Homo sapiens: one gene and its partner. The protein of the gene in region 1 purifies or fractionates together with the protein of each later gene. This does not show direct contact. Each region holds a gene or a part of one and is shown in the gene's direction. Other genes may lie near its edges.

Region 1 (12,344 bases):
CTGGTCTCGAACTCCTGACCTCAAGTCATTTGCCTACCTCGGCCTCCCAAGTGCTGGGATTACAGGTGTGAGCCACCCTGCCTGGCCTAGCAGAATATTATTAATAGAACCGTATTTCTCAAATTATAATGAGCACGGTAATTTGGAAGTGTCCAATTTTCAAAGATTTAAAATAACTATCACTAAAGTGATAGTTATTATAAATGTTATTTCCTCCTTTACTGAGAAGGCAATTCTGTTTTTGTTTTGTTTTGTTTTGAGACGGAGTCTCGCTCTGTCATCCAGGCTGGAGTGCAGTGGTGCGATCTCTGCTCACTGCAACCTCTGCCTCCCGAGGTCAAGCAATTATCCTGCCTCAGCCTCCTGAGTAGCTCGAATTACAGGCACGTGCCACCATGCCCAGCTAACTTTTTTGTATCTTTAGTAGAGACGGGGTTTCACCATGTTGGTCAGGCTGGTCTTGAACTGACCTCGTGATCCGCCCGCCTCAGCCTCCCAAAGTACTGGGATTACAGGCGTGAGCCACCATGCCCAGCGGCAATTCTGTATCTTACAGTATTCTGACATCAAAAATGCAATTTGGCATTTTATAGCACAATGAATATATAAAGCTTTACAAATTGGAATATAGTCATATTTAAGAGGAAGTGTGAATTGAAAGTTTCAGTTTGTTGCTGTCTGAGTAGAATATGACAGCTCCTAGCCTATTTCGTACTGTCTGTTTGGGTGGGAGTAGAAATTAATAGCTTTTAGACTAAATATGACCCTAGCCTGACTTACATGGACATGGTTTAGGATCATAAAAAGTCATATGATTAAGACAATGTTACGTACTTGAAAAAGACTGAGGAAAAACCATTTCTCTAATGCAAGCCACCAATGTACAAAAGAGTAAAGCAGCCTCCTACAGGTAAAACTAATTTTTACTTCATTACTTTTAAAATTAATAACAACATAGGATTGTATTCGCAAACACTGAAAAATGTTTATCTCATTTATGATTAAGAAATGTTGAGGGAGAAAGTCAGTGGAGAACAAATTAGGAAAAGAGAGGCAAAGATGAGAGAGGGAGAAGTTGGGAGAAAGAAGGAAAATGACTAACATGAGAAAAAAGAACTAGTATAAACATTTGTGTTCTGTTATAGTTTATGGTCACATGTATTGTCTCAGTTACCCTCATACCTGTGAGATTAGCAATGTAGGTCTCGTGCCCAAATTACTAAGGAAAAAATTAGATTTTTATTAATTTGGACAATAGTAAACACAAATTATATTCTGCATCAGACATTGGAAATACAATTAAGTAAGTCCATTTCAAAATAAATTATTGCTTTTCTGTGGAGTTATTTTTTATCTAGCTAAACACTGTTAAACATTACTATTCTGTTGTCCTAGAACCTTCAAGTTCCATTGCACCCAGTTTCATGCCTCTTGTCTTGAGAGAAAACTAAGTAAAGGTAAATTAAGTGGAAAGATTTTCACATTCCTGACAGAAAGATAATCCTTATTTTAAGGCTGTTTAGAAAACGTTGTAGATATAGTGAATTTGAATTTCAATAAAGCATTTTTCAGAATCTCATGTTGTCCCTTTGATTATGATGGACATATGAGCTTCTGAATGATAGTACTGTTAACTGGTGTCGTGTATTTGTCAAATTTTCATTAAGTGCATACTGGGTGCCAAGACATGAAAAAAGCAAGGACCATATCCTTAAGGAAATATTTACATATAAAGCAGTGCAATAAGAAAACTGCTATAAAAACCTTTGTTAAAGGGCAGAGGAGCATGAACATATATGCTTGCCTAAATCAATGTTCTCATCCAAGTTCTACTAGAGGCCTCAATTCACTAATGAAGACCCCTTGAATAGACTTAGAAATCTGGTATGTATTTTACACTTTTTAAAGTGTACACATATCAAATAGAACTAGCCACATTTCACGTGCTTCATAAGGTCCTGTGTGGCTAGTGGCCACCATATCAGACAGCACAGTTCTCTCTGCATCTTCCTCTGTAAATCGACAGTAATCTTTAATATAATAATAATACTCTGTAGTTCTCAGCAGTATATTATGATTCAGAGAAGATAATGTATTTTAATACAAATTTCAGGGTAGTATCTAAATGTTTAAAACTGTGAAAGAGGTATTAGACTCAATGGTAAATGGATTTTATGTTATTTGTCATCTCTATTTGAATGGACAGAGTTGTTGCTTATAATGCTTTCAGGCTGAGGCTGAATCTGCTGCTTAGTGTGTCTTCACCTAGAGGAGATCAGCTATGGCCAGATATTTGTCATCATTAAGTTAGACTGATTTGGTGTGGTTCCAGAGATGGAACGTGGAATAATGAGTAGAATTTACATGGAAACAGATTTTGGCTTAACGTTAAGAACTCTTCTAATAATTAGAGCTATCCCCCAATTGAATAAACTTCCCAAAGAAATAGCTAGTTCCCTGTCACTGGAAGTGTTCAGAGAGGGGTTGTGTAAACTCTTTTTTTCAGATGCTCTCCTAGGGATTCAAGCATTGGGGGGAAAGAATTGAACTAGAGAAACTTCACAGTCTTGACTAACTGAAATTTGTATTTGGCCTTAAATGGGTGTGGTGGGAGGGCCTGCCAGTTTCAAACCCTTATAATAGCCCTTCCATCAACCTGGCTTTGCCCCAACCTCAAATATGCCGAAACCTTGTATAATCATTTGTATTATAGCAAGTTTTCCAAAGTATCTTAATTTCCTGCCTATACAATTCTGCTTATACCCCAAACTAAATCCAAAATAGCATTTGTCTCTGCCTATACCACACACACACACGGGCCTTTTAGTTGGCTCAGTGGCAAACAGTGCTGCCAGGAAAACAGGTTTCACTGGTAAAACAAAAAGCCCAGGCTGTACAGTCCCTGAGATTTCTTTATCCCCATGACCACCCAGTAATTCCATATGTGATTTGGGTAACAAATTAAAGGACTTGATTGTCAACAATATTGTTACAGTAGCAAGATGATGTGTATTTACATGCAAAAACTTCATTTTTAGGAGACTGATTTGTCAAGTTTGGAAAAATAGATGTAATCCAAACTGTGAAGTCAGCTATGATTAGGCTCCTAAACTTATTTTAAAATTGTTTAGTGGCTGCTGTCTTGGCATATCTGGCTGTTAGCTATACAACTATTATACACACAAATTACGAAGTAGTAAAATTTGACAGTGTTTTTCTTTCCTTGATAAGTGTATTTCTTTCATTTGTGGAAAAACTTTTTGCTGTTAACTCTTAAGTTCACCTGAAATTTGAAGTTATTTTCAAAGGGTATCTGAATTATGCAGAGAAAGATGTGTAGTATATTTGTGAAATGACTTTACTGGGATCCCATAGGCTATCCTGGAAAAATCAGTATATCTACTTGGATTTCATTCGAGTATACATTATAAAACTTTGCATTTAGATTCTGGGTGAATGGAATGCTTAGATCAGGCCTTCAAGTAATTCCTATCAATATAGACATACGTATTTCATTAAATATCAAGTTTCACCTGCTGGATTTTTTCCCTGATACTTTATAATACCATACACTTTTATAAAGAAAACTGTAGTTAGCACAGAAGATTCCTTGGACAAATTTGTCGCGAAAATTTGGCCTTCTTTAGTCTCAAACCCAGTTCAGGTATTGATTTAAATAACAGAAGGATGATTTACTTATTTTTAAAATTGCAAAATTTTTTTATCATTTTCTTTTTTACCTTTCCTATGGTGCTGAGCAGTATTTTAATGCTTATAAAAAATGTGTTATCCATAAAGGCATAAAGAGTAATAAGATGGATCCCTGTATACCTGCTGCTTAGTTTAAGAAAAGGAACATTAGCAATTCTTTTGAAGCCCCCTAAGTATCCTTCCCTTACTCATGGTAGGTATTTTGCATGGCAGGATTTTCTTTTTGTTTGTCTGTTTTTTCCTGCTTTCCCCTTAATCGGGCCCTGGATCTATGCAGAAATCTCTGATCTGGCATCCTTCCTTGTGCAGGCACTAGGATTTGTCTCTTCTCTCTTGCAAACTGAAGCTTTAAATCATTGCATGTAGGCAGATACCCTTATAACAGCTGCATACCTTGGTAGTCGTTTGCTTGTCTGTATTTGAATTTTTGCAATGTTGTAATGGGAGAACTTTTCAGGTTATTGTCTCCATTGCCAGCGACAGATGGCTTGACTTTTAAAGTTGATTTTTTTTCTCACCTTCCCGTGAGGATAAACTGAAATCATTTTAGTAGGGCTGAACTGGATAAATAAGCCAACTTTATTAAGCATTTATTCCCAGAATCAAATATCTAAAACTAAATTAGCCAGATTATTTATTACATATTCACTATTCATAAACAATAATAGTTCAGATGAATTATTTGTAGCATCTTACACACATATAATGCCACATGTAACACTACATGAAAATCATTGACACTGATTATAAAGACTTTGAGGTCTTTATAAGGTCCCAAAGTATTTTCCATGTAGTGAGAATGTACAGTGTATTTTTTTAATATTGTCAGTAGATAATCCGGTTCTGGTAATTCATTTACCTAGAATATCTTGATTCTTTAGAGCATTCCATTTTCTTTGTTTTCTTTTTTTATAACGTAGACACAGGTCTCACTGTGTTGCCCAGTCTGGTCTCAGACTCCAGAGCTCAAGCAATCCTTCCACCTCAGCCCCGCAAAGTGTTGGGATTATAGACGTGAGCCAACACGCCTGACCAAGCAGTCCATTTTCATTGAACTTATTATGAAATGCCTCCTAAGATAAAGTAGAACATGTTTACCATTTGTTTCTAGTTGCCTTAGAGAGTTATTTTGTGAGGCTTAGACAACTTTGGATTTTTTTTTAATTCAATGAACTAGTTAAATCTTAATATGTAATTTGCTTTTGAACTTTTCAAAAGCATAAGCATAACCTCCTGATAAATTCATTATAATGAAATACAGAATATTATATTGTTTGTTCTCATTACTTATTAAAACATTTACTGTGTATGCTTAGGAAGAAGAAGCAGACGTTGAAGGCATTCAGTATAAAACACTTCGAACATTTCACCATGGAGTCAGGGTTGATGGCATAGCTTGGAGCCCAGAGACTAGACTTGATTCATTGCCTCCAGTAATCAAGTAAGTTTAACAGTACCAAATGCATTCCTTACTAATGTACTTTGATTGTGTTACATGATTGGAAGTCTGATCATAGATACTTTTTTCTCAATTTCCATTTTCCACAATCCAAGATATTAGATATTTTGATATTTGCTACTACTTAATAATTTAGGCTTATCATCTGAATTTGTGATTTAAATATACAGCCATGACTATGATGCCTTGACCATGTGTTTGAGCCAAACTACAAAACCTTTTACGTGAGATTCATCTGAATCAAGGTCTTTACAGATTGTTCACTGAATTTACAACTTTATTGAAAGTATAACTTAAAATAACTAAATTTGGTTGAGACATTAATGAGCTTTCCTTCCCCACCCATAGGCCAAGATCACATTTTTTTGTCCAACAGTATATAAATCTGTAAGTTCTGGTCCTGGACTTCAGTTTTTGTGAAAGTGTTTAAAAGGAATGATGGTTTTCTGAGAAAAAAATCCTAGCAATGCCTGCTGAAGCCCTCTTTACAGGGGCAAGAATATGTTAGGTTATTTAAGATCTGTTACAAAACACTAGCCTTGCCTTCTACAAATGTCAAATCTAAAAGATGTGTCTTCTTTTAGTAGACAGTACTTAGGAACTAAAAGTTATCAACTATTAAGCTAACTTCGTTTTTTTTAAATTAAGGGATAATTTAGATACTCTGAAATTCTCAGCTCTTAAGGGTATAGTTTGATCAGTTTTGACAAATACGTATATTTGTACAACCCACACCCTATTCATGCACTGTTTCTGTCACCCAAGAAAGTTTCGTCATACTTCTTCCCAGTTAATCATTGTACCCCACTCCCTGCAGAAGCAACCATTGATCTGATTTCTATTACCAGAAATCAGTTTTGCCTATTCTAGAACTTCATATAAGTGGGATCATACAGAATGTCTTTTGTGTCTGGCTTGTTTTTGCAATTTTTCCACATTGTTATGTATACCAGTGCTTTTTAAGTAGTACTCCATTACAGTGTATCAATAGACCATAGTCTGTTTATTCATTCTTCTGTAAATAGGTACCAATACAGTTTCTAGGCTTTAGTTATTATTTTTTGCTGAATACTGCTTTGGGTGGTTATATGATTTAATTTAGGAGTAGAATTGCTGAGTCACAGGGTAGATGTATGTTTAACATTTTAAGAAAATGCCAGTTTCTAAAGTGGTTCTACCATTTTGTCTTTTCCCCAATAATCTAAGGGTGGTCTTCCTACTCTCCAACACTCATTCATTCATTTTGAGACAAGGTCTGGCTCTATTGCCCAGGCTGGAGTACAGTGGCACCATCTCCACTCACTGCAATCTCTGCTTCCCAGGCTCAAGCCGTCTTCCCACCTCAGCCTCCTCCTGAGTAGCTGGGACTATAGGCGCCCATCATCATGCCTGGCTAATTTTGGTATTTTTTGTAGGGACAGGGATTTGCCTGTTGCCCAGGCTGGCCTCAAACTCCTGAGCTCAGGCAATCCATGTGCCTTGGCCTCCCAAAGTGCTGGGATGACAGCATGAGCCACCATACCTGGCCTATTCTCCAATATTTGCTATTGTCAATCTTTCTTTTTTTTTTTTTTATTTTTTTGGTACATGGTCTCACTCTATCTCCCAGGCTGACAGCCAGACCCATAATCACAGCTTACTGCAGCCTCAACCTCCCTTGGCTCAGCCTCAACCCTCCCTCTCACCTCCGCCTCCCAAGTAGCTGGAACTACAGGCATGCACCACCACTCCCGGCTAATTTTTTGTATTTTTTGCAGTGATGGGGTTTCGCCATGTTGCCCAGGCTGGTCTCGAGCACCCAGGCTCGAGCAATTCACCTACCTTGACCTCCCAAAGTGTTAGGATTACAGGCATGAGCCACTGTGCCCAGCCTGTCTTTTTAATTTTAGCCATTCTGGTTGATGCCACAATGACATTTCCATGATGAGTGATAATGCTGACGCTTTTTTGGTATATTTGTTTCTTCTATTAGAAATCTTTGTGTGATTTCTTATAGGTTGTGAAGATGTTGCATGTTTTTTCCTAGAAGCCTTTACCGATATTTAGCTAACTTAATTGAATAATCTACACAATAGCTTTTGTCAGCACACGTAATGTCATTGCCAACAGCTGGTGTGCTGTTGATTTCCTTTTATATTAAAAGAAAGTGGTCACAATATCTAGACCTAAACAAGAACAAGTCTCTTTGATTCTTTAAATTTTTAAAGCTGTGGAAACAGTCTTCTTCCCTTGGTTTTAAGTTTTGTGATACCTCTTTAATCTACATATTCAGCTGTTGTATTCTATGCTTTCCTTGTTGCTTAGTACTTGTTTTCCTGTCCTCTTTTTAGTGAATTTGCTGTGTTTCATCATTTCTGGTTGGTGTTTTTGTTTGGTTGGATTTTTCTTATTTTTTGGTAAACTGTCTCAAGACCTTTTTGGAACTATACAAATTCAGTAACAAATTCAAAAGACATTAGCAGGCCATTAATTTTAGACTATTTTTAGAGCAACCTGAAGGCACAATCTTGTTTTCAAATAAATTATTTTTATTATAAAATAATGAATGCTTAATAAAATTTAGAAAACACAGAAAATAAGGAGAAGAATGCCACCTATACTCCCAATACCCTTTTCATTTTTGTACATAATTGTACATAATTGTGATTATACTATAGTAACTCTCTGTACTTTCTTTACTTTGCTTTTTTATAGTATTCTAAAATAAATAGTAGTCTATCACCATGACTAAGGTATAACTCAGCATCTCTCTTATCATCATTAATTTTTATCTTACATTTAGAAATCCTTCATGATGGCTTATCATTAGCATGTAGTTGCCTTAAATTCTCTTTCTCCCTGCCTTTCTACTCTTTCCATCCCTACTTGCTTTTCTTGCGTAGTGGCTAGAGAATTCATTGTTCATGTTATTTCAGTTCTCTGAGGTTTTCTGGTTCAATTAAAGAAGGACTTAAATATCCCTGAAACAGCAAGGATTCAAAGAAAAGTGGGGCAACACAAGGCTGGCCATAAAGTTTTCTGGGTTTGTTTGTTTGGTTTTATTTAGATCCCAGTAAGATTATTAATTTTCTTTTTAAGTAAGTATTCTTTGATTACTGTAACTCCTCTATTTGCTGACATTTTTACTGAACTTGGCTTCATTTTGCTATTAATACCTCTTTACAAACCCTTTTAGTTGGGATGTTTCTTTTAACAACTTCCAAAATAGCTTTTATCTGTTTTAGAGATGACATTTTGAACAAAGTTTTATGATTTCATTATGCTATAACTGAGGAAATCCGTAGGAGACCCTCAACATGAGTGATATTATTGTGGCAAATTTGTCTAGAGTTTCCTATGAGCAAATAAATAATGAATTCCCAAAATAATAATTGGACAAATTCAAAGGAGAAGAATTAGGTAGAATAAGCTTTGTTTTACAGTTTTTCTTACCCTTTATTTGCATGTATAAAATATAACATACGTGTTTAAACACACATAGAGTATGTATTAGGGTTCTCTAGAAGGACAGAACTAATAGGATAGATGTATATATGAAGGGGAGTTTATTAAGGAGTATTGACTCACACGATCACAAGATGAAGTCCCACAATAAGGCGTCTGCAAGCTGAGGAGCAAGGCAGCCAGTCTGAGTCCCAAAACCTCACAAGTAGGAAAGCCAACATTGCAGCCTTCAATCTGTGGCCTAAGGCCCAAGAGCCCCTGACAAACCACTGGTGTAAGCCTAAGAGTCCAGAAGCTGAAGAACTTGAGTCTGATGTTCAATGGCAGGAAGCATCCAACTACAGGAGAAAGATGAAAGCTGGAAGACTCAGCAAGTCATCTCCTTCCACCTCCATCTGTCTGTTTTTTCTAGTTGTGCTGGCAGCCAGTTGGATCGTGCCCACCCACATTATGGGTGTGTCTTCCTGAGGGTGGGTCTTCCCCTCCCACTCCACTGACTCAGATGTTAATCTCTTGACACCCAGATACACCCAGAAACACCCAGATACACCCAGAACCAGTACTTTGTATCCTTCAATCCAAGCAAGTTGACACTTAATATTAACCATCACAGAGTATATATGTGCATTTTAACATGTTTATTATAAAGTAAACATTCATGAAATCACAGAGGTCAAGAGATAGGACATTACTAACACTTGAGGCTGCCAGTGTGCCCCTCTCCAATCAGCCTTCTTCCTTCCCCTTAAAGGCTATCAGTTTCATGTTTATTAGGATAATCATCTCCTTGCTTTTTTTTATAGTTTTATCAGTTACTGATGCATCCTTAAGCAATATAGCTTAATTTTGCCTGCTTATGAACTTTCTTATGAATATAATAATACTATATGTATTTTTTTGTCCTGCTTTGTTCACTTCACATTATATATATGAGATTCATCCAAGTTTCTACTTGTAGATCTAGTTATTTATTACTATGTAGTATTTCATTGTGAGTCTGTTACAGTTTATGCATTCTATTAATACTATATTTGCAGTTTGGGGTTATGAATGTACTGTTTGAGCATTACTGTGTGTATATATCATAATGTCCATGTGCACACTTGGACCACCCTTAACATACTTGAAACATTTTCCCCCAACAGCCGACACGTATTTCTTCAGTGTTTCTTAGGCCTTTTCTTTCGCCTCCTTTTCCCCTTTTTTTTCCTTGTCTTGTCCACTTGTGAAAGAAGTGTGAAGAATGGTTGGGGAGATAGACTGACAGGACAACCAAAGGGAAGCTGACTAGCCTAGACAGGGGATGTTGAACTAAATTGGGCAAAGTTCTGATATCAAAACTTGGGCATTAGCAACCTATCATACCATGTGTGTGCCAAATGCAGCATAGGAGGGGATTATTTTTTTTCTTAACGTGTTGCCATTGTTACCGAAATACAAGGGGTTGGTCTAGGCCCTGTTGCATACCACACAGAAAGCCAGTGACTAAGACAACAAGTATTGCAAGGGAAGAAGGCTTTATTCAGGTGCTGCAGCTGAGGAGACAGGAGATAAGTCTCAAATCCATCTCACTAACCCACTAAAATTAGGGGTTTATATAGCAGGGAAGAAATGCAACTACATGTGGAAAGACAGGAATTGTGGGGTGTAAGGAACCAGTCATGACAAACGAGGGGTCTGGTGCCTCATTGTGCAGATGCAATGATCTGGTAAGTTTTAGTTCCTTTATGCTATCTGGGAGGCCTGAAGGTCGGTTTCCTGAGAAAGGAACTCAGAGGAGACAAATACAAGTTTTCAGGCTTTAAGATCAGGAGAGTCAATCTCTGTAATTATCTCCAAACCATGAACATTAGTTCTGTGGGGAAGTTGGGCCAGTTTCACCATCAGGACCACAAAGCGGACCTGGTTGGGTTTTGGCTTTCCTTGGTTTTTTTTGCTTTTTGCCAGACCTGTAATGTCCCAAATCAAAGCACCTATTTTTATAATTCATTGTTAATTAAATATAGGTATTTGTTAGGTTAAATGAAAGTAATGATAAGAGTGTACATTTGCATTTTAAAATGAGATTGATAGAGTGCTTTCATTTATTAATACAAAGGGCATTAGAAGTAAACTAATCTAGTCTCCTTTACTTTATTGAGGAGGAAACTGAGCCCTGAGTTTTTAAATGTCATCTTCAAGTTGCATAGCTAAGAAGTAATAAAGGCACCACTAGGCTGACTTGGTTAATCAAATGAAAATGTTGTTAAAATATGGCACATTTTTAGGGGATAACTTGATACTCAACATCTGTTAAGCAATTTAATGAAACAGTCATATATTTGTATACTATTTATGATGGCGTCTTTATTTCCCACTGTTGCCATAACAAACCACCACAAACATGATGACTTAAAACAACAACAGAAATTTATTATCACAGTTTTGGAGGCACATATTCAAAATCAAGTTATCAGTGGGGTTGGTTTATTAGGCTCTGAGGGAGAATCCATTCCATGCCTGTTTTCTAGATTCTGATGGTAGCCAGGAGTCCTTGACTTTCTTTGCCTTGTTGATGCATCACTTCAATCTCTTACCCTTCATATCTCCTCTGTGTTTATCCTTTTTTGTGTTCATTCATTGTTAAATTTTGGGCCCACCCTAGATCCAGGATGATCATCTTAGTATCCTTTAATTTAATCATGTTTGCAAAACCCTATTTTCAAATAAGGCAGCACTCGTAGTTACCAGGGGTTAACACATAGACTTATCTTTTTGAGGACACTTTTTTTTTTTTTTTTTTTTGAGAGGGAGTCCCGCTCTGTCACCCAGGCTGGAGTGCATTGGCGTGATCTCGGCTCACTGCAACCTCCACCTCCCAGGTTCAAGTGATTCTCCCTGCCTCAGCCTCCCGAGTAGCTGGGATTATAGGTGCACATCACCATGCCCAGCTAATTTTTGTGTTTTTAGTAGAGATGGGATTTCGCCGTGTTGACCAGGCTGGTCTCAAACTGACCTCAAGTGATCCACCCACCTTGGCCACCGGAAGTGCTAGGATTACAGGCGGGAGCCACTGTGCCTGGCGTGAGGGCACTTTTCAACCTGCTAAAGATGACACGGAATTCTTGTTGTTGTTGAGACAGGGTTTCGCTCCTGTCACCCAGACTGGAGTGCAATGGCATGATATCAGCTCACTACAACCTCCGCCTCCCGGGCTCAAGAGATTTTCCTACCTCAGTCTCCCAAGTGGCTGGGACTACAGGCACACGCCACTGCACCCGGCTAATTTTTGTATTTTTTTTTTTGTAGAGATGGGGTTTTGCCATGTTACCCAGGCTGGTCTGGAACGCCTGGGCTCAAGTAGTCTGCCCATTTTGGCCTCCCAAAGTGCTGGAATTACAGGCATGAGCCATTGCACCCGGCCATGGCATTCTTGTGCAATGTATAAATATATAGAGGTGCAAAATAAATGCTAATGTAGTGCACAGTATCCCCTTTCATATAAACCCTCACTAGACAACCAACGAAGCCAAAGACTAAAAGCTACAAAACATTGCAGAAAGAAATTAAAGACACAAATAAATAGAAAGACAGCCTGTGTTCATGGATTGAAAGATTTCATAGTGTTAAAGTGTCTGTGCTACCCAAAGCTCTACAAATTCAATGACGTCTTTATCAATCTCTGTGGCACTTTTTACAGAAACAGAAAAGCCATCCTAAAATTCAGATGGAACCTCAAAGGACCCCAAAT
Region 2 (12,344 bases), on another chromosome or scaffold:
TTCTAGCTACGGAATTTAACTTTCTAGGTAAATTATAAGGAAAAGGCTTTACATAAGTGAGCTAAGAGTACTGTGATAGTTTAGTTACTAAAACTGCTCGTTTGGAGCACCAGTAAAATCATCACACACACACACCCCTCCCCACCCCCAACACACACCATGTTCATAATTAACCTAAAACTTTAGTGTTTCTGCATAGTTTTCTCTGAATTCATCTATAAAAAATGAATTTTTCCCTGCAGGAAACACAAAGTATTGTGTCTTGAAATTATGGTTAAAATTTATCTGTAAAATTTTTCAGTACTTTAAAGGAGAAGTGGTTTTGAAAGAATACACTGTATCTTTGACTTTTTTTGGCATATTTTGAAAAGTTCTTTTCAAAGTGCTGATCTTGTCAGTGTTTTCTATTCCTTTTGCGAAAAGTTGGAGAATAAAAGCATACTTTATTTACTGTGTGTTGTTTTATTTAAATCTCTTCTTGTGATCATTTGAAGAAAAACCTTTGTTATCCTCTGTCAGGAAACAAAGCCCTTAGCCCTTCTGTATGTGCATCTTCTCATTTAATTCTCGTGATAAGACATAGACTACCTTTTATTCTGGTGACTTTACAATATTCTAAATGTTAAGAGGGTGAGCAAGAAATAAAGTTTTTACTGTGATATCTGCTGTTGAGGACCATGTAACAGCTGATGCTCGTAACCTGTTCGATTTCTTGCTTGGTTGTACAGATCTGATAGTTTTTTTTTTTTTTTTTTTAAAGAGACAGGGTCTCACTCTCTGTCGCCCAGGCTACAGGCTGGTGCCACAATGCCCGGCTAATTTAAAATTTTTTTTGTAGAGACAAGGTCTTGCCACGTTCCCCAGGCTGGTCTTGAACTCCTGGTCTCAAGCAGTCTTCCCGCTTCGGCCTCCCAAAGTGCTGAGATTATAGACATGAGCCACTGCTCCGGCCAGGTCTGGTGGACTCTTAAGCACCTAAAGCTAGATGAGCTTAAATCTCATCTAAGCCAATATTTATAAAATGTATTTGACCACAACATATGGTAAAAGCTGATGTTTTATATTCTGTCTTTCAAAAATGTTGAGATCTGCAAAATGACCCGCTGTTTGAAAAAAAAAAAAAAAAAACACTGGTCTAGTTAAGCCTTATTTCACAGCTAAGGAGGCAGAATTATAAGGAGTTTAAGTGAATACAGGCATGCATTTCAATACTAGAGTCTATGGGATTGAAGCCAAGTTTTCCTAAATCCTGTTTTGTTTTTTTTTTACATGAAAAATATTACATTTAATTACATGGTAAATATGAGCCAGTGTTAATTTTTTTCAAAGAACTCCTTACTGTGAAAATATATACATAAAAAATTAGGATAATGGAGAATTTTAAGTTACAAGTAAGGTAATATAGACTCTTTTCTTTAGGGGAACACCAACACGAATGTTCCCACACCACTCCATAACTGAGTCTGTGAACTATGATGTGAAAACGTTTGGATCTTCTCTTCCTGTTAAAGTCATGGAAGCCCTAACATTGGCTGAAGGTAGGTGTCATCTTTCCATTTACCTATATTAGCAGTTTAAAATGGAGCCTAGATGTGGCATAGAGATTAAATTTATGTTTTCTCTAGTATACCTTTACGTAAATGGTGAGAGATGGGTGGCCTGTCTAGTGTTTTTTTATTTTTATTTTTTCGAGACAGAGTCTCACTCTGTCACCCAGGCTGGAGTGCAGTGGTGTGATCTCAGCTCACTGCAACCACCACCTCCCAGGTTCAAGCGAGTTTCCTGCCTCAGCCTCCCAAGTAGCTGGGATTATAGGTGTGAGCCACCACGCCCAGCTAATTTTTTGTATTTTTAGTAGAGACAGGGTTTCACCATGTTGGCCAGGCTGGTCTTGAACTCCTGACCTCAGGTGATCTGCCCTCCTTGGCCTCCCAAAGTGCTGGGATTACAGGCGTGAGCCACCACATCTGGCCACCTGTCTTAGTTTTTTTTTTTTTTTTTTTTTTTTTTTTTAACTGTAATTGAGATGTATAATACATTCGAGAAGGAGAATGAGTTCATTTGAACACAATCAAATTAAGTCTTTAATGGTTTTAGGTACTGTACAGTAGTCCCCCATTATCTTTGGGGGATATCTTCCAGGATCCCCAGTGGATGCCTGAAACCTTGTATAGTACTAAACCTTATATATACTGTGTTTTTTTAATACATACACACCTATGATAAACTTTAGTTTATAAATTAGGAACAGTAAAGATGAACAACAGTAATAATAAAGTAGAACAATTATAACAATATACCAGCAGCACTACTCTTGTACTTCGTTTGGGGTCATTAACTAAAATGAGAATATAAGCATTGCATTACTGCGACAGTTCATCTGGTAACTGAGACAGCTACTAAGTGACAAACAGCTGGATAGTCTCAGGGGTGTCCAATCTTTTGGCTTCCCTGGGCCACTTGGAAGAAGAATTGTCTTGGGTCACACATAAAATACACTTACGATAGCTGATGAGCTAAAAATAAATAATGAAAAGGTCTGTGTATAAATCTTATCATGTTTTAAGAAAGTTTACAAACTTGTGTTGGACCGCATTCAAAGCTGTCCTGGGCCACACGTGTCCCTGGGCCATGGGTTGGACAAGCTTGGGGTATACAGTATGGATATGCTGCACAAAGGGTTGATTCACAACCTTTAGGCAGGACAGTATGAGATTTTATCACTTTACCCAGAACAGCATGCAATTTACAACTTAGGAATTGTTCATTTGAATTTTCCATTTAATATTTTCAGACTACGATTGACCACAGGTATTTGAAACTGCAGATAAAAGGGGGAAATACTGTATATGCAAAATTCAGTCCTGTTTACAGAGTTGATCAGGTTTATGAAGTTTCCCGTGAAACCCCAAAACTGGCACCTCATGTTATTGGGTTTAATAATACAGTAAAATCAAGTCCTACCTCCATTTCTGGATCCTATGTAGCATCCCAGAGGCTGTGTGCACAAATTTATGACGTTACCATTGTCGTGGTGTACCTTTAGAAGCGTCTGTTGGTGGAGAATTAGTGTGGAATTTTGACAGATACAATCAACACAAGCTTAGAAAGGCAACTTTAAAGATGAGCAGTTGGATGACACTGGAAGAGCAAAGTTCAGAGCAGCCTTAATATCTGCTGAAGTCATTTTTATTAAGGCTTGAATTCTAGATCTTTGTGATTTTTCTGGAACAGTATTTTTCAAATTGTAGGGGTGACCAAAATTTAGCGGTTCTTGACCAGCATTTAAAAAAAGAAGAAATAGAATGCATCTCATATGTTTAGTAAATTTTGTTCGTTTTACTTAAATTGTATATGGGTGTATCGTGATGTAAAATGTATTATACTGTGAATAACTCTATTTACTGTATAACTTAATAACAGTAAAAAAAAAATGCTGAAATTACTCTGTTTTAGAAGAAGGAATATATCTCATCAACTGGAACTTGGCACATCTTGCCTGTAGGTCCTTGGGAGCTTTAGGGATAGTTGTTTTCAGACAACTACTAACCTTTCTATACATTGTTCTGTTTTAAATAAATAAATGTATATATATATATTGGTATATATGTGTATATTTTTCCCCTCTAAAAATTTCAGTTTACATTTAAACCTTTTAATGTACTACTCATATTTTAACAGACTAGATTAAATAACACAGCCCCAAATCTAGAAATTCAGAGAGTCCTTAGAAATTAGGATATATAAAACAAAGAGGTGTGTCAACTTGAAGAACTCTTCCCCACTTAGAAACCTGCCAACTACTGTTAAGTCAGCCCTTAAAGGCACACCGGTCGAGGATCTGGAGTTGTAGTGCTTTCAAGAAAAAGAAAATTACTGAGCAGATAGTTCAGTTGAGCAAAAAGCCTCACTCAGCCTGGGCTTGGTTTGATATTTTTGCTTGTACATTGTCTATGCCTTTTACTTCACCCTTCTACCTTTCTGTAAGTAAAGAGCAAAGCTCAACTTAATAAAATTTCCAGGGCTGTTAACACATTTGTGGAGGTTTACCACCAATACTTAAGATATGTGCTAATTTAGTTTTGTCACTTAATAGAGAACGTAACTCTTTGTCTCCATGTACTAAATAATTTATCATTCCTTTAAGGAGCTCTTATTTGAAAATTATGTGCTTTTGGTCCTCCAAAAGCACATTGTTTTCCTTGAAATGTTTTATATAGTTAATGAGTTTGTTATTTGTTTTACTTTATCGATATAATTATAAATGTTGCTAAATATTTCTTTTTTGTTTGTTTGTTTTGAGACAGAGTCTTGCTCTGTTGCCCAGGCTGGAGTGCAGTGGCGCGATCTCAGCTCAATGCAACCTCTGCCTCCCAGGTTCAAGTAATTCTCCTGCCTCAGCCTCCCGAGTAGCTAGGATTACAGGTGCACGCCACCATGCCCCCATGCCTGGCTAATTTTTTTTTCTATTTTTGGTAGAGATGGGGTTTCATCATGTTGGCCAGGCTGGTCTCGAACTCCTGACCTCATGATCCACCCACCTCGGCCTCCCAAAGTGCTGGGATTACAGGCGTGAGCCACCCTGCCTGGCCTCTCTTTTGTTGTTTCTGCTTACTTATTTTTTGATATGGAGTCTTGCTCTCTTGACCAGGTGGGAGTGATGTGATCATGGTTTACTGCAGCTTCAATCTCCTGGGCTCAAGTGGTTCTCCTGTGCCTCAGTCACCCTAGTAGCTGGGAAGTGCACTGCCAAGCCTGGCTATTTTTTTTTTTTTTTTTTAAGAGAGAGAGTCTCACTATGTTGCCCAGGCTGGCCTCAAGCAGTCCTCCCAGGGTGGCCTCCCAAAATATTGGGATTTATAAGCATGAGCCACTGTGCCTGGCCTAAATATGTCTTATAGGAAATAAGCTATCTGGTCTGTTTGTAACAAAAAATTAAGGAATATTAAATGTCCCAAATACACTTTTTGCCTTTAGATATATTTCTTTTTTCTTTCTTTTTTTTTTTTTTTTTTTTTTGAGATGGAGTCTGGCTCTGTTGCCCATGCTGGAGTGCAGTGGCACGATCTCGGCTCACTGGAACCTCCACCTCCCAGGTTCAAGCGATTCTCTTGCCTCAGCCTCCCAAGTAGCTGGGACTACAGGCACGTGCCACCACACTCAGCTAATTTTTTGTAGTTTTAGTAGAGTTGGAGTTTCACCATGTTAGCCAGGATGGTCTCGATCTCCTGACCTCGTGATCCTCCCACCTCGGCCTCCCAAAGTGCTGGGATTACAGGCGTTAGATATATTTCTAAAGTTGGTTATCAGAGTTAATAGATCTATTGTTTTTGGTGTTGATAATTTTGGAATATTCAAAAGTATTTGTTGTGAGGTAGTCGTTTCTGAGTGTGCCAATTACTTTTTTTTGATAAAGCGTGTGGTAATAAAGATTTATACTATAAGATTAATCACCCACCTCATTTTTTCCTTTAGTCGATGACCAGCTGACCATTAACATAGATGAAGGTGGATGGGCTTGTCTGGTGTGCAAAGAGAAGCTCATTATTTGGAAGATTGCTCTGTCACCTATTACTAAGGTAATGGCTCTTTAGAGAGCTGGAACAAGATAGAGGAGAGGAATGCCAATTGACTTTTCATTTTTACCCTAATTTTTTTACAGTTGGAGGATAGTCAATAGGAAACTACTTAGGCATTAAGAGTTTGCATTTTCATAGTGATGTGAAATAATGAGCATGCATACACATTTGTGTATTGGGAAAAAAGTTTCCCCCTTTTGAAGATCTGTGTTGTTTACATTTAATAAAATTAGAGTCATTGATATTTCCAATGAATATAATGCTAATCCGTCTGCCTAATGAAGTATCAGACTAAATGCTATCCACATAAGCAAATGAACTTTGAGTTTGCGTATTTCTGAGAAGACAGAACTATGTTTTGTTGAACCTACTGAATGATGCTTAATAAAATAAGAAAATATGATACCAGTTGCTAGTTAAACTTTTCACTTGTCCACTTCCAACAGTGGGTTATCATTTGCATGTCTAGTAACGTATCCTCAGCAACCTTTTTCTGTTTGTTACAGCTTAGATACACTACTCTCTTCTACCAGTCATTACTTCCTTGGCCATGTTCCGTTGGAACTCAGGGCTCCTGCTTACCTCAATTCTTCACTTCTGCTGAACTCTGTGTTACTGCTGCCTAGAAAAGGGTGTATGTGGTTAGGAGTAATAGGTGAGGGTGAATTCCTGGGGGACATACTGAGTTAGCTGCGGGATCCTGATATTTGGCTGAGAGTCTAAGAAATTGTTTCCTAGGTAACTTGGTATAATTACTCTTTGGTCATGCTAATTTTAAATGTCAGATGAACAAATCAAGAGTAAATTGGGAAAGTTCCATAGGAAGCCTAAGCACTCATCTTAACCTTACTTAGTCTTCTCTTAACTGGACTTTTCTAGCCCAGGAAGAGGTTAGGATAGTTGTTCTTCAGAGTTTGGTCTACCTTTAAGTTTTCATGATTCAATACTCTTAAGATACTTTGTTTTAAAATTACTGAAAGCCTGATTAAAAGGAGATGTGAGAAGAAAGAATATTTGTAGAATGGTGTTTCCAGCAGTGAGTCAGAATCTAAAATATGCAGAGAAGGGAAATCAGATGCATCTTCAAAATACTGGATTTGATGTGAAAGATTTTCTGTTTGGGTTTGTTCTACAGTTATCCGTTTGCAAAGAACTTCAGCTGCCACCTAGTGATTTCCACTGGAGTGCCGACTTAGTGGCTCTTTCTTACTCTTCTCCCTCAGGTGAAGCACATTCTACTCAGGTAGGTGACTTAAAAGCTTATTTAAATAAACTTTTTACAACAAGGACATCCTAAAGTTAGAGGAATCATCCTCTTTGATTTTGAGATATAACTATAAACCTATAGAAATCAAGATATTGTGGTATTGGCAAAGAGAGCTACACACATAGGTCAGTGTAACAGAATAGAGAATACAGTTATAGATCCACATAAAGGCACCCATTTGGTCTTTGATGAAGGTGCAAAAGCAATTCAGAAAGGATGGTTTTTGACGATGATTTTTCTCTGTATCAATGCATAGTGTAGGAACATTTGTAATTTTAAAATTACAAATGACCAATTTGTATTGTATTGTATTGAATTTTCCCTTAAACCTCATACCTTGTTACAAAGATTAATTTGAAATGGGTCATAGATCTAAATGTAAAACAGTAAAACTTTTAGAAGAAAACAGAAGAAAATCATCATGACCTGAGATTAGACAGAGTTCTTGGAAATCACCAAAAGCATGATCCATAAAAGAAAAGTTTGATAAAATTAATAATAAAATTAAAATAAAATAAAAATTTAAAGCGTTGCTTTGCCAAAGACAAGAAAATGAAGAGACAAGTTACAGAGTAAGAAGAATTTGCAAATCATGTATCCAGCAAAGGACTTGTATCCAGAATATTTTTTAAAATTCTAAACTTGATAAGAAAACAATGCAGTTTAAAAACAGGGGCTAGGACTTGAACAGACACTTAGTGAGGATATAAGGATGGCACATAAGCACATGAAGAGATGTTCAGCATCATTAGCCATTAGAAAAATGCAAACCAAAACACTGGTGAGTTCTTATTTCTGATTTTTCTTGATCAAATAGTAAATTGTCCTGTTTCTTTGTATCATTGCCATCAGACTGCTGGTTTTTGGGTTCCTCTTTTATTGTGATTGCTGATTGTTGTGATCTTGTTTTGAGGCTGTTGCTGTCATGGTTGCCACCAGAGAAGGATCTATCCGCTATTGGCCAAGCCTTGCTGGTGAAGATACCTACACAGAGGCTTTTGTAGATTCGGGAGGTGATAAGACTTACAGTTTCCTAACAGCAGTGCAGGTATACCACGGATATTCCTTTATATTTATTGGAAAGCTGTGATTTGGCTTGGAAATAAATTTTTGTTTTTATTTTTAAATAGAGGTGGGATCTCCTTATGTTGCCCAGGCAATTCTCAAACTCCTGGGCTCAAGCAATAACTCCTGCTTTGGCTTCCCAAAGTACTGGGATTACAAGCATGAGCCACTGCACCCCAGCCGTGGAAATGAGATTTGATGACTAAAAATGTGGGGTTTTAAAGAGACTATAGAGGCCGGGGAGGGATCAAAAAGAGACAAGGAAGAGAAGAATGTAAGGATCTATGATTTGAACAGTTAGACAAGGGAGGCTCTTCTCACAGGACTCCAAAATATCAATTTCAGATAGTAGCTTGTGATATGAATTTCTTTTAGAAACATTTTATAAGATTGGCTTAAAAACTGTCAGACACTATAAAGAATGGCTTGCATTATCTTCTTTGTAGGTTCACAAAGAAACAAAATCTGGCTGAGCATGGTGGCTCATGCGTGCAGTCTCACCACTTTGAATGGCTGAAGCGGAAGGATTGCCTGAGGCCAGGAGTTCAAGACTAGCCTGCGCCATAAAACAAAACTTTGTCTCTACAAAAAAATTTAAAAATTATCTGGGCATAGTGGTGTGTGCCTGTAGTCCCAGCTGCTCAGGAGGCTGAGGCAAGAGGATCTCTTGAGCCCAGGAGATTGAGGCTGCAGTGAACTATGATCTCACCACTGCACTTCTGCCTGGGTGACAGAGCGAGACCCTATCTCTAAAAAAATAAAATAGCAAACAAAAAATATAAATAAATAAAATCTGATAACCTAATTTGTTGAATCTGAAATATGATGAACTTGTAGTTTAAAAATCAGAATTTAAAAAATATGCAATTTTTTTCTGCTACAAAAGTTGTTTTTTTTTTTTTTCTTTTTTCGAGACACAGTTTTACTCTGTCACCCAGGCTGGATTGCAGTGGCGCAATCTCAGCTCACTGCAACCTCTGCCTCCTGGGTTCAAGCAATTCTTGTGCCTCTGCCTCCCAAGTGGCTGGGATTACAGGTGCGCACCGCCACGCCCAGCTAATTTTTGTATTTTTAATAGAGACGGGGTTTCACCCCGCCTTGGGCTCCCAAAGTGCTGGATTACAGGTGTGAGCCACCATGCCTGGCCAGTTTTTTTCTTATGAGAGTTTTTCTATGTAGGATTAATAATATTAACTGAATGGATTCTGAAATATATTACTTTAATAAAATAACAACGTTCTATTTTGTATTCTTTTAGATTTATTTCAATTACGATGATTTTTCTCTGTATCAAAGAATTTTTCATTTTATCTTAGCATTCGATGCTAAACTGAACTAACCTCATAATGTTTTTTCACAGGGAGGAAGTTTTATTTTGTCTTCATCAGGAAGCCAACTAATTCGGTTGATACCTGAGAGCTCAGGAAAGATTCATCAGCATATCCTGCCTCAGGGGCAAGGCATGCTTTCAGGAATTGGTCGAAAAGTTTCTTCTCTTTTTGGAATTTTATCTCCTAGTAGTGATCTCACAGTAAGTTTATAAAATAACTATTTTACAAGCTTATTTCTTAGTTAAATCAATAAGTTGAAAGTATCCTCTGAATTTAGTATTCCTCCATATGGACAGTAGCTTATGCGAAATAAAACCTTTGGTCTTTTTAGTGAACTATTTTTATTATGATGAAATGAGATCATACTAACCTTCTCCCATAACTTGTAACACTAAAATCTTTAAATCAGACAGATTATCTCACAAGTACATTTTTTGAACTAAAACTATTATGTAAAATATAAAATGTGTTTCTTAAAGATTAATTTGACTTTTTAGATTTAACCAGAAGCGTGTTTCTACTCATGCCTCCAGCTGTCTGTGTGGATGACTGAAATCTAGATCTGTTGGCTGGACTTCTCTGCACCATACTCTAGCATAGTGAAGGGAAGATGATGGGAACTAATATTTATGGACCATCTACTCGCTGCTCGGTGCTCTATAGTTGTTATATTCATATTGTGTAATCATTGTGACAACCTGTAAGGTAGCATGCTTTCCCGCCAGTTTACAGATGAGGAAGCACCCTCAGCAAGGCTGAAGGTGTGTAACTGCTGAGTGGCAGAGCTGGGAATCATACCCAGGCCTGTCTGAATTTAAAGAACATGCTCTTTTTACTGTGCTGTTTCCCTCTTGTTTCAGATAATTATCACCTGCTTCCTTGAATGTTCTTTAAACCTAAACTTAACATGTTTAAAAACAAATTTATTGTGTTCTTTCATCTCTCCTATTGGCTACTCACTTAACCCTATAAAACTCATTTCTCTTTTGACCTGTTTTTGTTAAGAGCACCATCCCTTTTTTCAGTGACCCAGGTATAAAACCTTGTTATTTTTTGTGTCTCCCTCTCCTTCTATAGCAAACTAGTTATTTACCAGGTGCTGTAGATTTAACTTCTATCCAATCTCATTTCCATCCCCATCTTTCTGCTTTTGATGTTATGCCCTAACCTATACTCTTGATAAATTTCACCTAAGCTCCTGGTACCTGCTCAGTTTACTTACTGTTGGCCTTTCTGCCCTATCAGTGATGCGTTTTAACACAAAACAGTCATGTATATCCAGCTTTAAAAAGCCGAATATCTATACTTCATGATTAAGTATATACTGAAAAGGCAAAATAACACTCCTCTTCATGACTAACTACATACATTCTGCCAAATGCATTCAAACACAATTCTGTGTTCAGAAGCTATTGATAATATCTCCCTTGCTTGCTACACTTACCAATTCACATTCAACACTCTCTGCTATATGTCCCTGATTTTTCATTATTTTTTATTTTTATTTATTTTTAAAAATAGAGACAGGGTCTCAGCATTTTGCCCAGGCTGGTCTCAAGCTCCTGAGCTCAAATGAGCCTCCCTCCTTGGTATCCCAAAGTGTTGGAATTACAAGCACGAGCCACCACGCCTGGCCTCATTATTTTTCAAAAAATCCTTATTTTTTCTTCTTTTCTACTTGTCATCTACATTCCAATGTAACAGGATGACTTCTTGTTCTCCAAAGACGCTGTAACTTTCCCACCTTTCAGCTCTTCTCCTCTTGGGCTTTCCACCTGTATCCTTCTTCCTATAGATCCAACCTTGCCCTCAAGCTCTATTTCAGGATCACTCATTTCTGGTTTGTTTTGTTTGTTTGTTTTGGAGATGGAATCTCACTCTGTCGCCAGGCTAGAGTGCAGTGGTGCGATCTCGGCTCACTGCAGCCTCCACCTCCTGGGTTCAAGTGATTCTCCTGCCTTAGTCTCCTGAGTAGCTGGGACTACAGGCGTGTGCCACCACACCCGGCTACTTTTTTGTATTTTAGTGGAGATGGAGTTTCACCATGTTGCCCAGGGTGGTCTTGAACTCCTAAGCTCAGGCAATCCACCTGTCTCGGCCTCCCAAACTGCTAGGATTGCAGGGGTAAGACACCACACCCGGCCCAGGATCACTACTTTCTTTAAATCCCAAATGAAGAATTCTGCTAGGATTACTAATCACATATGTGAAATTTGACTTTTAAAACAATAGTTCCTTAGCATTAGAAGTTAATCTGTGAATTTGACTTCCTTTTCTTTTCTGAATAGCTTTCAAGTGTTCTCTGGGATAGAGAGAGATCAAGCTTTTATAGCCTGACGAGTTCAAACATCAGTAAATGGGAATTAGATGATTCTTCAGAAAAGCATGCATACAGTTGGGATATAAATAGAGCCCTGAAGGAAAACATTACCGATGCTATTTGGGTAAGAAACAATAATATTCATCTCTGTAATTCATGTTTATGGTTGTATGATAATGCTGGTTCCCTTAATTGTTTTATTTATTTCAACACATTTCAGTGTAATAAACAACATAGTGTATGGTTATCAGATTAAGTGGAAATGGGTTAGTCAATCTCCAGAAATATTGGAATGCATTGGTTTACTTGCTTAGCGATTTTTTTTTTAATGTATACATTATTCAGCAACTGAGTTATGGGTGAAGCACTTCACTAGGTACTAGGGATATAAAGGTGAAAATAAATCATTCCTGCACTTGAGAAGCTTACATTATTGATATTTTCATGTAGGGATCTGAAAGTAACTATGAAGCTATTAAAGAAGGAGTCAACATTCGATATTTGGACTTGAAGCAAAACTGGTAAGCAATTAATTTGTCGTAAAGAACATAGAGAAGAGTTTGGAAAAAATAAGTTGATGTTTATAATAAAATGATGAGCAATCTCACTATGTGCTCTTTCTTTGGAGACAGGGTCTCACTCTATCACCCGGGCTGGAATACAGTGGCACCATGATAGCTCACTGCAGCCATGACCTCCTGGGCTGAAGTGATCCTTCTGCCTCAGCCTTCCAAGTAGCTGGTACTGCAAGCATGCGCCACCACACCTGGCTGATTTTTAAA

What was found.
Region 2: the proteins of NUP37 (region 1) and NUP133 purify together in Homo sapiens (affinity purification with mass spectrometry; 4 studies listed by BioGRID and IntAct, with this or other methods). This does not show direct contact.

The regions. Positions count from the first base shown.
Region 1 is NC_000012.12:102,104,916-102,117,259, reverse strand, and holds part of NUP37 (nucleoporin Nup37), read left to right. Parts: intron 1-5,027; coding exon 5,028-5,152; intron 5,153-12,344. UniProt on the Homo sapiens protein: Component of the Nup107-160 subcomplex of the nuclear pore complex (NPC). The Nup107-160 subcomplex is required for the assembly of a functional NPC.
Region 2 is NC_000001.11:229,495,234-229,507,577, reverse strand, and holds part of NUP133 (nuclear pore complex protein Nup133), read left to right. Parts: intron 1-1,419; coding exon 1,420-1,538; intron 1,539-5,475; coding exon 5,476-5,579; intron 5,580-6,714; coding exon 6,715-6,822; intron 6,823-7,759; coding exon 7,760-7,894; intron 7,895-9,271; coding exon 9,272-9,442; intron 9,443-11,530; coding exon 11,531-11,686; intron 11,687-12,012; coding exon 12,013-12,083; intron 12,084-12,344. UniProt on the Homo sapiens protein: Involved in poly(A)+ RNA transport. Involved in nephrogenesis.